Regions from separate parts of the Homo sapiens genome. Here region 1 is linked to region 2. Evidence: fine-mapped expression QTL. Tissue or cell type: tibial artery. Region 2 holds a variant in brackets; the other region holds the start of a gene. All regions are shown on one strand. Distances are between the middles of the regions.

Region 1 (2,500 bases), 63 kb after region 2:
CCTGTGTGGCTGGGACCCAGACTGTCTGACCTGGGGGTTGCCTGGGGACCTCTCCCACCCGACCCCTACAGAGCTTGAGAGCCACAGACGCCTGGCTTCTCCGGCCTCCCCTCACCGCACAGTTCTGGCCACAGCTCCCGCTCCTGTGCTGGCACTTCTGTGCTCGCAGAGCAGGGGAACAGGACTCAGCCCCCATCACCGTGGAGCCAAAGTGTTTGCTTCTCCCTTTCTGCGGCCTTCGCCAGCCCAGGCTCGGCTGCCACCCAGTGGCACAGAACCGAGGAGCTGCCATTACCCCCCATAGGGGGCAGTGTCTTGTTCCTGCCAGCCTCAGTGTCTTGCTTCTGCCAGCTCCTTCCCCTAGGAGGGAAGGGTGGGGTGGAACTGGGCACATGCCAGCACCACTTCTAGCTTCCTTCGCTATCCCCCACCCCCTGACCCTCCAGCTCCTCCTGGCCCTCTCACGTGCCCACTTCTGCTGGGCCTTTAGCCCTAGAACCTGCAGGTGGTGGGGGCGGCTACCAAGAAGGAACAGAGGTCTCTGGGGAGGAGTCTGGGTGGTCCAGCCCTGATGATTGGCCCCACCTCCTGCTGCCCCATAACCCTCTCTTCATTTCGGCTTTTTCATTTACCCTCATTTAGAGCCATTTGCAGAGATTTAGAAAGATTTACAGTAACGAATGGATTCCTATATAAAGATTATTTTTATACTTTTTGCAGCAAAAGGAAATTGTAATATTTGTACAGTGTTCAAGTGAATAAAAACCATGCCTAAGGCTAGCTCTGATGTGGTTCTTTGGGGACCCTCCTTGGGACTGTGCTGGACTGGCAGTGTGATTGGGTGGGTCACCTTGCTGGAACTAGGGGTGGGGCGGCCTCCGGCAGCCTGCCCTCCCCGCCCCCACCTGCCGCACCTTGGTGTGGGGCGGGGCCGCCTCGGCGGGGCGGGGCAGGCGGAGCCGTCCTACCTTCCTACCCCCAGACTCCAACCCGGAACTAACCTCGGCTCCCTTGGGAAGGCCGCGTTGCATGGCCAGGAGCAGCAGTCTGGGCCGCGAGTGCGGGACACCGAGGTCAGGTCTCGGAAAGGGAGGACCTCCTCGTCCCCAGGGGCCCCAGGCCAGGTGCACCCTTGGCCGCAGGTGCACGGTCTCCGGAAAGTGCAGGCGCCCACGTCCCAGCTGGACCATGGCGCCTCCGCGGAACGTGGTGAAGATTGCCATCAAGATGCGTGACGCCATCCCGCAGCTCATCCAGCTGGACCAGGTCACCCGGCTGGTCCCGCCTCCATCTGCCCCACTGCCCCACCTCCCGGTAGCCCCCTGGCCCTCGGGGCAGCCCGCCCCACCCCTCCCCCCAGGCTCCTCCCCATCCCTCCCTGCCCAGGCCGCGAGAATGACCACTCCACTTGCAGGCGAAGCCCCTGGCCGCTGTGCTGAAGGAGGTGTGCGACGCGTGAGTGCTGCCGGGCCAGGGCCTGCGGAGGGCGGGAGGGCAGGAGGGGCGGCGCCCCCTGCCGGCCTCGCTGAGCCTCGTGCCCCTCAGGTGGAGCCTGACGCACTCTGAGCGTTACGCCCTGCAGTTTGCGGATGGGCACCGGAGATACATCACCGAGAATGTGAGTCCCCTCTCCCCAGCCCCAAGCTCGGCCTTCCGACCCCTCTAACCCACCTGGCCCCGATAACTCTGGCTCTTCATCCCACTACCGGAGCGCGATCTGTTATTCACCCCCAGCCGCCCTCACCGACACCCCAGTTGATCAGTCCTCGGAGCCCTCCCTGACCTCGCTGCCTTTTCTGCTGTCTTCTCCAGAACCGCGCGGAGATCAAGAATGGCAGCATCCTGTGCCTCAGCACGGCCCCAGTAATGCCCCTCCCGTCCCGCCTTCCCCATCCCTGCCCCTTTGCTCCAGGTCCAGAGGCCCCCCGCCCCGGAGGCCCCCGCCCCAGCCCTGCCTTGCGCCACCTAGTTGACGCCCGGGGCCGCACACTTCCAGGTCCCACCCTTACCATGCCCAGCCTCTTCACCTCTGCTCCTGCTCCGTTCCTGCCAGGACCTTGAGGCTGAGCAGCTCTTGGGTGGGCTGCAGAGTAACAGTCCTGAAGGGCGCCGGGAAGCCCTGAGGCGCCTTGTTCCGCTGGCCTCGGACATGATCTTTGCCAGGGAGGTCATCAGCCGTAATGGGCTCCAGATACTAGGCACCATCATTGAAGATGGGGACGAGTGAGCACAGGGATGTGTGGGCTGGGGGAGATGGTGGGTCTTTCTGGTCCTGGGGTGGTCCTGCTCAGCCCCAGATGTCCCCCCTCCAGCCTAGGAGAGGTGCTGGCCCTCAGCCTGAGGGCCTTCTCAGAGCTCATGGAGCACGGCGTGGTGTCCTGGGAGACTCTGAGCATCCCCTTTGTGAGGAAGGTGGGTGGGCTTTCCTAGGGCAGCGGGTGGGGGCAGTGGAGCAGTGGGGCAGTGGTAGACCCGGTCTTCCATGGGGGTGAGGTGGTGA
Region 2 (2,752 bases):
TTTTGTATTTTTAGTAGAGACAGGGTTTCACCATGTTGTTCAGGCTGGTCTGGAACTCCTGACCTCATGATCCGCCCACCTCGGCCTCCCAAAGTGCTGGGATTACAGGCGTGAGCCACCGCACCTGGCCAGCTCTCCCCTTTTTTCTACCTTTTTTTGTTTTGTTTTGTTTTGTTTTGTAAGAGATGGCCTCATTCTGTCATCCAGGCTGTAGTGCAGTGGTGCAATCATAGCTCACTGCAGCCTCAAAACTCCTGGGCTCAAGTGATCTCACCTAAGCCTCCCAAGTAGCTAGGACCACAGGCATGTGCTACCATGCCCAGTTAATTTTTGTCTATGTGGAGATGGGTCTTGCTGTGTTACCCAGAATGATCTTGAACTCCTGGGCTCAATCGATCCTCCCTCCTTGGCTTTCCAAAGTGCTGGTATTACAGGTGCAAGCCGCTACACCCAGCTTTTCTCCCTATATTATCCAGGCCGGTGTGCATTGGAATACTGTGGCCTTGAACTCCTGGGCTCAAGCAATCCTGCCTTAACCTCCTGACTAGGCTACAGGCACGCACCACCATGCCTGGCTCTCCTTTTTCTACCCTTTATGCCAAGTTCTCAACGTAGGCAAGCAGACGGGACTTGTTGAATTGTGGTTTGGCCACACCTTGGCCAGAGTTTTGCCAACCATGAACAACAACAACAAAAAGAAATAGTTGGCCGGGTGCAGTGGCTCATGCCTGTAATCCCAGCACTTTGGGAGGCCAAAGCGGGTGGATTACCTGAGGTCAGGAGTTCAAGACCAGCCTGACCAATATGATGAAACCCCATCTCTGCTAAAAATACAAAAATTAGCTGGGCGTGGTAAAGCACGCCTGTACTCCCAGCTACTCAGGAGGCTGAGACAGGAGAATCGCTTGAACTCAGGAGGCGGAGGTTGCAGTGAGCTGAGATAGCGCCATTGCACTGGAGCCTGGGCAACAAGAGCGAAACTCCTTCTCACAGAAAAAAAAAAAAAAGAGTGCCACCTTCAGTAGCTGGTCCCTCCAGGATCCATGCCTCATTTTGTGACATTCCCATGCCTGGCCAACTTCAGCTGCTTTGGGTTGTGGATCGTGCTTAACGGGACTGGGAGCTTCAGCGTGGAGTTTGTTCCCATAAAGAGAGCTGAGAACCTTCGTGGAGCTCATTGCCTAACCAGCATTTATTCGTAAATTGGGTTCCTGCATCAGTCTCTGAGGCATTGATTCCTTTTTTTTTTTTTTTTTTTTTTTTTTTGCTTCTTTTTTCTTTCTTTGAGACATGGTCTCCCTCTGTCACCCAGGCTGGAATGCAGTGGCATCATCATAGCTAAGTGCAGCCTTGAACTCCTGGGCACAAGGAATCCTTCTGCCTCAGCCTCCGAAGAAACTGGGACTACAGGTGCACACCACCACACCCAGCTAATTCTATTTTTTTGTAGACACGTGGTCTCCCTATGTTGCCCAGGCTGGTCTCAAACTCCTAGCCTTAAGCGGTC[G/C]TCCCACCTCAGCCTCCCAAATGGTTCTTAATTATTAAGAATCTGGTATATAGGCTGGACACAGTGGCTCACGCCTATAATCCCAGCACTTTGGGAGGCCGAGGTGGGCGGATCACGAGGTCAGGAGATTGAGACCATCCTGACTAACGGTGAAACCCCATCTCTACTAAAAAATAGAAAAAATTAGCCAGGCATGGTGGCAGGCGCCTGTAGTTCCAGCTACTCGGGAGGCTGAGGCAGGAGAATGGCGTGAACCCAGGAGGTGGAGCTTGCAGTGAGCCGAGATAGCGCCACCGCGCTCCAGCCTGAGCGACAGAGCAAGACTCCTTCTCAAAAAAAAAAAAAAAGAATCTGGTATATGAACTCTGAGCCCACTTCTGTGAACAGTTAGACAGTTCACAACCTTCACGTTACGAATTTCTTAAAATGTGATTTTCTAGCCAAGACAGAACAACCACTTAAAGGAGTGTCATGCTTAAGCTATGGTTTTGGGGTTTTTTGTTGTTGTTGTTTTTTGACAGAGTCTTGCTGTGTTGTCCAGGCTAGAGTGCAGTGGTGTGATCTCAGCTCACTGCAACCTCTGCCTCCTGGGTTAAAGCGATTCTCATGCCTCAGCCTCCCAAGTATCTGGGATTACAGACGTGTGCCACCACGCCAGGCTAATTTCTGTATTTTTAGTAGAGATGGGGTTTCACCATATTGACCAGGCTGGTCTCAAACTCCTGACATCAAGTGATCCGCCCGCCTCAACCTCCCAAAGTGCTGGGATTACAGGTGTGAGCCACCGCACCCAGCCTGAGCTATAGTTTTTGAGAGAATTGAGATGTGGCAGCAAAGTCAAGTGATTTAGTGTGGTTTTTTCCCAAGAGGATCACTGCTTGAAACAGCAGGGTGGTCAAGGATCAGGGTCATTAATCATCCCAGGAGACAGCAGGAGGAGCCTGTCGAGGGTGGGCTCTCAGCCAATTATGTCTGCCACCTTGTACAGCACATTCCCAGCAGTCACACTGCTCACTGCTTACACTGTCAGCAGGGCAAATGATTTGTTAAGTCAGGGCCTCAAAGGGTTATCGTCTTCACTGAGAGTTTCCTGTGGCAAGCACAAGTTTCTCAACCCACTCATTTCTCATATCCTTCCTTATGGAATATGGCTGCAGTGATGCTTTTAATGCAGGGAGTCAGTTCAGCCATCTGGTCTCCACAATAATTTGTAGAAAGATACACTTTGGGGAATCACAATCTAAA

What was found. PIP is the estimated chance that this variant, and not a neighbour inherited with it, causes the effect.
Region 1: it holds the start of ELMO3, and the variant in region 2 is fine-mapped to the expression of ELMO3 in tibial artery (GTEx, PIP above 0.99). The same link has a PIP of 0.9 or more in atrial appendage, fibroblasts and skeletal muscle.

What each region holds. Positions count from the first base shown.
Region 1 is chr16:67,198,139-67,200,638 of GRCh38, forward strand. It overlaps ELMO3 (engulfment and cell motility 3), which reads left to right and starts at 993. Exons shown (of 20, transcript NM_024712.5): 1 at 993-1,266; 2 at 1,415-1,455; 3 at 1,546-1,618; 4 at 1,813-1,863; 5 at 2,054-2,223; 6 at 2,313-2,412. The coding sequence starts at 1,189. It overlaps E2F4 (E2F transcription factor 4), which reads left to right. Exons shown (of 10, transcript NM_001950.4): 10 at 1-780. RefSeq lists a silencer at 329-388.
Region 2 is chr16:67,135,316-67,138,067 of GRCh38, forward strand. The region is part of intron 8 of PHAF1 (phagophore assembly factor 1); the gene reads left to right. Among named protein-coding and RNA genes, the nearest start is that of B3GNT9, 14 kb to the right of the region's middle. The variant G/C (reference allele first, on the strand shown) is at 1,508.